Linked DNA regions of Homo sapiens: all the other regions are linked to region 2. The links come from fine-mapping of genetic effects on gene expression. A gene starts in region 2. Each other region holds a variant in brackets. All regions are shown on one strand. Distances are from middle to middle. Region 1 has its middle 2.8 kb from the start of TRR-TCT3-1. Region 2 holds the start of ZDHHC12 (zDHHC palmitoyltransferase 12). Region 3 has its middle 4.9 kb from the start of DYNC2I2.

What was found. PIP is the estimated chance that this variant, and not a neighbour inherited with it, causes the effect.
Region 1: its variant is fine-mapped to the expression of ZDHHC12 in T cells (TOPMed, PIP 0.99).
Region 3: its variant is fine-mapped to the expression of ZDHHC12 in whole blood (TOPMed, PIP above 0.99).

Annotation. Positions count from the first base shown.
Region 1 is chr9:128,336,011-128,338,811 of GRCh38, forward strand. No RefSeq gene overlaps it. Among named protein-coding and RNA genes, the nearest start is that of TRR-TCT3-1, 2.8 kb to the right of the region's middle. RefSeq lists a silencer at 1,249-1,407. The variant C/T (reference allele first, on the strand shown) is at 1,359.
Region 2 is chr9:128,723,104-128,725,603 of GRCh38, forward strand. It overlaps ZDHHC12 (zDHHC palmitoyltransferase 12), which reads right to left and starts at 1,024. Exons shown (of 5, transcript NM_032799.5): 1 at 891-1,024. The coding sequence starts at 990. ZDHHC12-DT (ZDHHC12 divergent transcript) reads left to right here and starts at 1,359. Exons shown (of 2, transcript NR_046240.1): 1 at 1,359-1,532. RefSeq lists a silencer at 913-1,392.
Region 3 is chr9:128,660,345-128,663,189 of GRCh38, forward strand. It overlaps a transcript of DYNC2I2 not described here and the pseudogene HMGA1P4. Among named protein-coding and RNA genes, the nearest start is that of DYNC2I2, 4.9 kb to the left of the region's middle. The variant G/A (reference allele first, on the strand shown) is at 1,464.

The DNA of each region.
Region 1 (2,801 bases), 390 kb before region 2:
AATCTGCGGGAAAAGGAGGCCATGCTAGTGAGTCCCCATACCTCACCAGTCTCTGCAGACCTGCCAGCTGTTTCTGCAGCTTCCCAGGGTCCCAGGCACCCCCACTGCAGCTCACTAAAGTCAACAGTGCCAGGGTGGCAGCGGAGGTCAGACAGATGGCCTTCACTGCCCAGCTGAGCAGCTCACCTGCTCTAGGCAGGCAGTGCCTGGACAACCCTGGGCCTTTGTAGCACTTGTGAGATGGACACAAAGCATCAGGCTTAGCTGGGAATGGAGTCTGGTCTCCTGAGTATAGGGTGGCATTTGTGTTACCAGCTCATGATTGGAGAAAAATCAAACTGGCTATAGGTAATCACTGGTGAGGCCCTACCAACTTCTGCCTAGAAACGTCTATTCTCCCATCTCAGTAAACCATGCTTGCCTTCATCCTGCTCCCTGAACACACCAGGCTTCTTCCTGCCTTTGGGAACAGCACCGTGTCCCCAGGTTGTTACATGGTGAGCTCCTTGTCATTCACATCTCTGCTCAAATGTCACAGCAGAGATGTCTTCCTGGGCTTCCTGCCATCTAAAGCAGTCCCTAGTCCCCCTCTGCCTCTCTCCATGCTATCATCTTCTGTTTATTATTATTTATTTTTTGAGATGGGGTCTCATTCTGTCACCCAGGCTGGAGTGCAGTGCCACTATGACGGCTCACTACAGCCTCGACCTCCTGGGCTCCAGGATCCTCTTGTTTTAGCTTCCCTAGTAGCTGGGCCTATGGATGCATGCCACCACGCCTAGCTAAGTTTTTTTTGTTTGTTTTGTTTTTTTTTGTTTTTTTGTTTTGAGATGGAGTCTCGCTCTGTCACCCAGGCTGGAGTGCAATGGCGTGATCTCAGCTTACTGCAACCTCCCTTTCCCAGGGTCAAGCAATTCTCCTGCCTCAGCCTCCCAAGTAGGTGGGATTACAGGGGTGCACCACCATGTCCAGCTAATTTTTATTTTTAGTAGAGACGGGGTTTCACCATGTTGACCAGGCTGGTCTCGAAATCCTGACCTCAGGTGATCTGCCCACTTTGGCATCCCAAAGTGCTAGGATTACATGCCTGAGCCACCGTGCCCAGTCAAGTGGTTTCTTTTTTTTTTTTTTTTTTTTGGCGGGGGGAGTGGATGGAGTCTCACTCTGTCGCCCAGGCTGGAGTGCAATGGCGTGATCTCGGCTCACTGCAACCTCCCACCTACTGGGTTCAGGCGATTCTCCTGCCTCAGCCTCCCGAGTAGCTGGGATTACAGGTGCCTGCCACCACGCCCGGCTGATTTTTTTTTTAATTGTTAGTAGAGATGTGGTTTCACCATGTTGGTCAGGCTGGTCTCAAA[C/T]TCCTGATCTTGTGATCCCCCCGCCTCAGCCTCCCAAAGTGCTGGGATTACAGGTGTGGGCCACCGGGCCCGGCTTTTTTTTTTTTTTTTTCTTTTGTAGAGACAGGGTCTTGCTATGTTGGCTCGGCTGGTCTTGAACTCCTGGCCTCAAGCCATCTTCCTGCCTTGACCTCCCAAAGTGCTGGTATTCCAGATATGAGCCACTGCACTATGCCCTTATTTTCTTTAGAGCATTCACCACTCTGAAATTATTTTGTTGGTAGAGCTTGGCGGGGGGTGGCTCATGCCTGGAGTCCCAGCACTTTGGGAGGCCTGGGGGGGCAGATGACTTGAGCTCAAGAGTTCCAGACTAGCCTGAACAACATGATGAAACCTCGTCTCTACTAAAAATACAAAAAATTAGCCAGGTGTGGTGGCGCACACCTGTAGCCCTAGCTACCCAGGAGGCTGAGGTAGCAGGAGCACCTGAGCCCAGGAGGTGAAGGCTGCAGTCAGCTGTGATTGTCTGGGCAACAGGAGTGAGACCCCATCTCAAAAAAAAAAAATTAAAAAATTTTAATGACAATACTGTGATGAGCGTGACACCAGCACAGTGAGCACTGAGTGAGGGATGACCTATTCCATCTCACTTCCACCTGTCCTCTGTGCGGCCAGCTAGACTGTAAGCAACTGAAAGGCAGGCTGTCCTGTTCTGTGTTGTCTTGCTTCTCCCCCTCAGGCCTGATCCAATGTCCGGTGGTACTGCTTTGGTTTCTCCAGTGTGACGAGCCTGACTGAAGGAGAGCAGGTGGCTGGTCACCAGCATCCTCCCGCTAACTCTCACCTGCCCACTTGCATATGACCTCAGTAGTTGATGTGGAAGTACTCATGATTATACTCACGAATCCTGGTGTGCATAAGGTCAGAGCCTCCAATTCACTCTCCCTTTCATTCATTCAAGAAATGTTGTGCCAGGCGCAGTGGCTCATGCCTGTAATCCCAACACTTTGGGAGGCTGAGGCGGGTGGATCACGAGGTCAGGAGATCGAGACCATCCTGGCTGACACGGTGAAACCCTGTCTCTACTAAAAAAAATACAAAAAAATTAGCTGGGCCTGGTGGCGGGCGCCTGTAGTCCCAGCTACTCGGGAGGCTGAGGCAGGAGAATGGCGTGAACCTGGGAGGCGGAGCTTGCAGTGAGCCGAGATCGCGCCACTGCACTCCAGCCTGGGCGACAGAGCAAGACTCCGTCTCGGAAAAAAAAAAAAAATACTCCCCACAAATCTCCACGCTGACCCTGTGAGGTATTATTAATTAGTATGTCCCATTTTTTATATGTAAGAACAAAATGAATCTTGACCTTTCAGCTGAGAAGGCGAACTCAATGCTCATGCCCATACCACTGCACATTCTGCCTCCTGATGGTGATACCCATGAAGGATGTGGTGCTGGAATTTACTCAAG
Region 2 (2,500 bases):
CAGGGAGGTGACAGGATTTTGGGGAGGTAGGGTGCAGGGCAAGGAGTGAGGGGGCATGAGACCACCAGACAGCAGAGTGTAGACAAATCCTGTGTCCCTTGGTTGTAAGGGGGAGCAGAGAAGAAAGGGTGGGTTTTGAGGGGGGTTTTCTGATACGGAGACCTGAGCAAGTTTTTAGGCTAAAGGGTGAAGGTGGTGGAGGAGGTCTGTCTTGGGAGGAAAGCCAGAAGGGGCCCCAGTCCAGAAACTGAGGCTGGACCGCCATGGAAGGAGGGCTGGGGTCTGCTGTGGGGGACAGTGGGGGAGGCTGCCTGTGGCAGGTGAGGCGCTGGGTAGGGGGCTACTAAGAGGAATGAGGGAAATGGAGGTGGGTGGGTGGGTGAATCTGTGGGAAGATGGGAGACAGGCCGCACCCCATGGAGTGTTCTCTGGCCTGAGGGTTTGCCTGGACTTGGGCAGCTAGTGGCCATGGGGGTGTGGGGGGTGTGGGTGTGGGCAGAATGCCAATCTTTGCATCTAGTTGAGCCTCCTAATCGTATGGATAGGAAGATTTGGGGTCAGTTCCTGGGAAGGATCATGTGGGTCCCAGGATCAGGGGACATGGGGCTCAAGTCGGTCCTTGGATCTGGTGGGCACCGGCTGGGTCCTGGGATGGACAGGGCATTTGGCAATGATCAGGAAGATGCTGGGATTAATTAGGGATCAACGGGGTATCAGACAGAGAGCAGGTGGCTCTTGGAATGATAGATGGGGAGAGGGCTTCAGGAGCTGGTGGAGATCGGGCCAATCCCAGGATCTCCAGGGATTAGGCGGGAGACCCAGTGTGACCAGAACGTCTGGGGAAGTACGCGGGATCGGGTGGGTCCGGGGTCGCTCGGGGTCCGGCTCACCGGTATCGTGCAGGAAGAGCACCAGCGTGATTCCCCAGGTCAGCACGGTGTGCCCGGTCCGCACCAGGACCCCAGGGCTGAGGAGCGCCCAGGGCGCCATCGCCTCGGCCCGGGGCCCCACCCGGAAGAAGCGCCCAGAGGGGCGGGCCCTCCGAGGGAGGGGAACGCCGCCGCCCGGGGACTGGTGGATCTAGGCGTTGGGCGGGGCCGGACTGGGTCAGGGAGGCTGCCTATTGGATGGCATCTGCGGCCGAATGGACCCTCAAGCCAACAGGTGCCTGAAGAGGCTGAGGGTGGGGCCGGCGCGCGCGCAGCTGGTAACTCCCTCAACTCCAGCCCCACCCGCCAGGTAACTTTTGAAAGCGCCGGAGCGCGCGCGCACCTCCCCCGCGCTCCGCTGTGCCCTCCCCCGCGTTCCCCTGTGCCCGCCCTCGCAGCCTCGCGCATGCGCGTAGCTCCCTGGGCGCTTCGAAGATCCAGCGGCTTGCTGTGAGTCCGGGAGGCAAAATTGTACCCATTTCAAAGATGTGATGACTAAAGTCTCGAGAGGGCCAAGGCTCGCCCAAGGTTGCTCTGTGGTGACAGCTTTACCTCCTTGCTATGTATTCTCAGATATTGCAAACGGACGAGAGAAAAGTGGAGGTACGTGGTGCACATTCTGACTATGGGTGATCCAACTTAGGCGGGAGTCAGAAATCCCAGCACTGCCCCTTCCTACCTGTGTGACCCTGGGCGAGTTACTGAGCCCCTCTGAGCTGTTTTCTGTCTCTATAAGGGGGATTACAATAGTGTCTTCCTCCTAAGGTGTTTGGGAGGATTAAATAATGGAAGCGCCTTGTCTAGCACGGGACTGTCTTGCCTCTCCTGCTGTGAGCCACCACCTACAGGCGGACTTTCCTCACCGGAGGCTGCAGGCTGTCCTCCTTCCCTGTGTCCCCAGGGCCTTCTCCACTCAGCCCCGCCTTTCCACAGCACCTCCCACTGATACCAGCATCCTCCTCCGCCTCCCTCTGATTGGCCCCATCCCAGCTCCTCCAGGATACTCCTCTGACATCTGTTGTTTTTCTCAGCTCAACATCCTTTTTTTGGTTGGGGAATCGACTTCCCATCCCATGTGATTGGAGGGACTGCCCCTCACCCCATAGGATGGCGAGCGGCAGGCTGTGGGCTTTCGACTCTGCAGAACCAATCACAGGCCTTCCATGAGATTACTGTCTAGATGCTGAGAGGAAGGAGCATTCTTTTGGATCTCAAGCCTAAGGAATGGGATATAAGGCAACTGGGAGCCGTCTTTACGCTGGGCGGAGAGGGCTTACCCTGTCTGTGGCTGGAGAAAATGAGACCAACTTATAAAGACACATAGAGATGGATAAGCAGCACTAAAGGAGGGAGCAAGAGATGGTCTGAACAACATTGTCTGAGCCCTCTAGATCCGGCTGTCCCTGAAGCTGATACTGACTCTGCATCCCCTGGTTGCAAGAGTCAATGAATGCCCACCTTTTTTTTTTTTTTTTTTTTGAGACAGAGCCTCACTCTGTTGCCTAGGCTGGAGTGCAGTGGCGCGATCTGGGCTCACTGCAACCTCCACCTCCCAAGTTCAAGTGATTCTC
Region 3 (2,845 bases), 63 kb before region 2:
TGTGATCTGCCCACCTCGGCCTCCCAAAGTGCTGGGATTACAGGCATGAGCCACTGTGCCCTGCCTATTATTTCTTTTTTTTTTTAAACAGTCTTGTTCTGTTGCCCAGAGTGGACTGCAGTGGTGTGATCTTGGCTCACTGCAACTGCTGCCTCCCGGGTTCAAGCGATTCTCCTGCCTCAGCCTTCAGAGTAGCGCATGCCACCACGCTCAACTAATTTTTTGTATGTTCAGTAGAGACAGGCTTTCACCATGTTAGCCAGGATGGTCTCGAGTTCCTGACCTCATGATCCGCCCACCTCAGCCTCCCAAAGTACTGGGATTATAGGCATGGGCCACCATGCCTGGCCTGACAAAGCTGTCTAATTTTATTTTTATTTTTTATTTATTTATTTATGTTTTTGAGATGGTGTCACGCTCTGTCATCCAGGCTCAAGTGTAGTGGCACAATCTCGGCTCATTGCAACCTTCACCTCTTGAGTTCAAGTGATTCTCTTGCCTCAGCCTCCCAAGTAGCTGGGACTACAGGCATGCACCACCACACCCGGCTAATTTTTGTATTTTTAGTAGAGACGGGGTTTCACCATATTGGCCAGGCTGGTCTCGAACTCCTGACCTCAGGATCTGCGCACCTCAGCCTCCCAAAGTGCTGGAATTACAGGCAAAAGCCACTGCGCCAGGTCAAAGCTGTTTTAATAATGAGGTTGTTGTGTTGAGCCGGCCGCAATGTTTCACGCCTGTAATCCCAGCAATTTGGGAGGCCAAGGCAGGTGGATCACCTGAGGTCAGGAGTTCCAGACCAGCCTGATGAACATGGTGAAACCCTGTCTCTACTAAAAATACAAAAATTAGCCAGATGTGGTGGTGCATGCCTGTAATCCCAGCTACTCCGGAGACCGAGGCAGGAGAATTGCTACCCCACTGCACTCCAGTCTGGGTAACAGAGTGAGACTCCATCTCAAAAAAAAAAAAAAAAAAACAAAAAGAAAAACCAGCCTGGCATGGTGGCTCACGCCTGTAATCCAGCAATTTGGGAGGCCGAGGTGGGCAGATCACCTGAGGTCAGGAGTTCAAGACCAGCCTGGCCAACATGGTGAAACCTTGTCTCTACAAAAATACAAAAATTATACGGGTGACATAGCGGGTGCCTGTTATCTCAGCTACTCGTGAGTCTGAGGCAGGAGAATCGCTTGAACCCAGGAAGTGGAGGTTGGAGTGAGCCGAGATTGAGCCGTTGCACTCCAGCCTGGGCAATAAGAGTGAAACTCTGTCTCAGAAAAAGACAAACCAAAAAATTAGCCGGGCGTGGTGTCAGGCACCTGTATTCCCAGCTACTTTGGAGGCTCCCATGCATCAGGTCCTAATAACAATCACACTTACTTGATCCTCAGGGGATGAATGTCTGAAAAAAAGCCGGCCGGGCTTGGTGGCTCATGCCTGTAATCCCAGCATTTTGGGAGGCC[G/A]AGGTAGGCGGATCACCTGAGGTCAGGAGTTGGAGACCAGCCTAGCCAACATGGTGAAACCCCGTCTCTACTAAAAATACAAAAATTAGCTGGGCGTGGTGGCAGGCGCCTGTAATCCCAGCTACTAGGGAGGCAGAGGCAGAAGAATCACTTGGACCTGGGAGGTGGAGGTTGCTGTGAGCCGAGATTGCACCCCTGCAATCCAGCCTGGCGACAGAGCGAGACTCCATCTCAAAAAAAAAAAAGAAACCCCATCTCTACTAAACATACAAAAAATTAGCTGGGCATGGTTGCATGTGCCTGTAGTCCCAGCTACTTTGGAGGCTGAGGCAGGAGAATCACTTGAACCTGGGAGGCGGAGGTTGCAGTGAGCCGAGATTGCGCCATTGCACTCCAGCCTGGGCAACAGCGCGAGACTCCGTCTTGGGGAAAAAAAAAAAGAGCCTGAAACCTGAAGGGGGCTCAATCAATGGTGGCCATAATGAAAGCGCCATCTGCCCATGCTCTTTGTGTTGAGAGGCTGGTGTGCCCTACAGATGGATACTGGACATAAAGCAGCAGGATATTCATAATTCCAAAACACAAGTGTTACAGTCTTGGGTGTTTTGTTTTGTTTTATTTGAGATGGAGTTTTGCTCTTGTTGCCCAGGCTGGAGTGCAATGGCGCGATCTCGGCTCACTGCAACCTACTTCCTGGGTTCAAGCAATTCTCCCTGCCTCAGCCTCCCGAGTAGCTGGGATTACAGGCACCCGCCACCATTCATGGCTAATTTATTTATTTATTTTTTTGCAGGCAGAGTCTCACTCTATCCCCCAGGCTGGAGTGTAGTGGCACGATCTTGGCTCACTGCAACCTTCACCTCCTAGGTTCAAGTGATCCTCCTGCTTCAGCCTACAGAGTAGCTGGGATTACAGACAACTGCCACCATGCTGGGCTAATTTTTGTAGGTTTCACCATGTTAGCCAGGCTGGTCTCGAGCTCCTGACCTCGGGTGATCCACCTGCCTTGGCCTCCCAAAGTGCTGGGACTACAGGAGTGAGCCACTGCACCCAGCCTTTTTTTTCTTTTGAGACGGAGTTTCTGCCTCACAGGTTCAAGCATTTCTCATGTCTCAGTCTCCTGAGTAGCTGGGACTACAGGCGTGGGCCACCACACCTGGCTAATTTTTGTATATTTGGTAGAGATGGGGTTTGGCCAGGCTGGTCTCAAACTCCTGACCTCAGGTGATCCGCCTGCCTCAGCCTCCCAAAGTGCTAGGATTACAGGCGTGAGCCACGGCGCCCGGCCCCAATTCATTCTTAATGATCCAGATTGAACCTCTCTGATCTCTGCCAGTGGATTATTTATTTATCTATCATGTTTTTTTTTCATTCTAGTAACT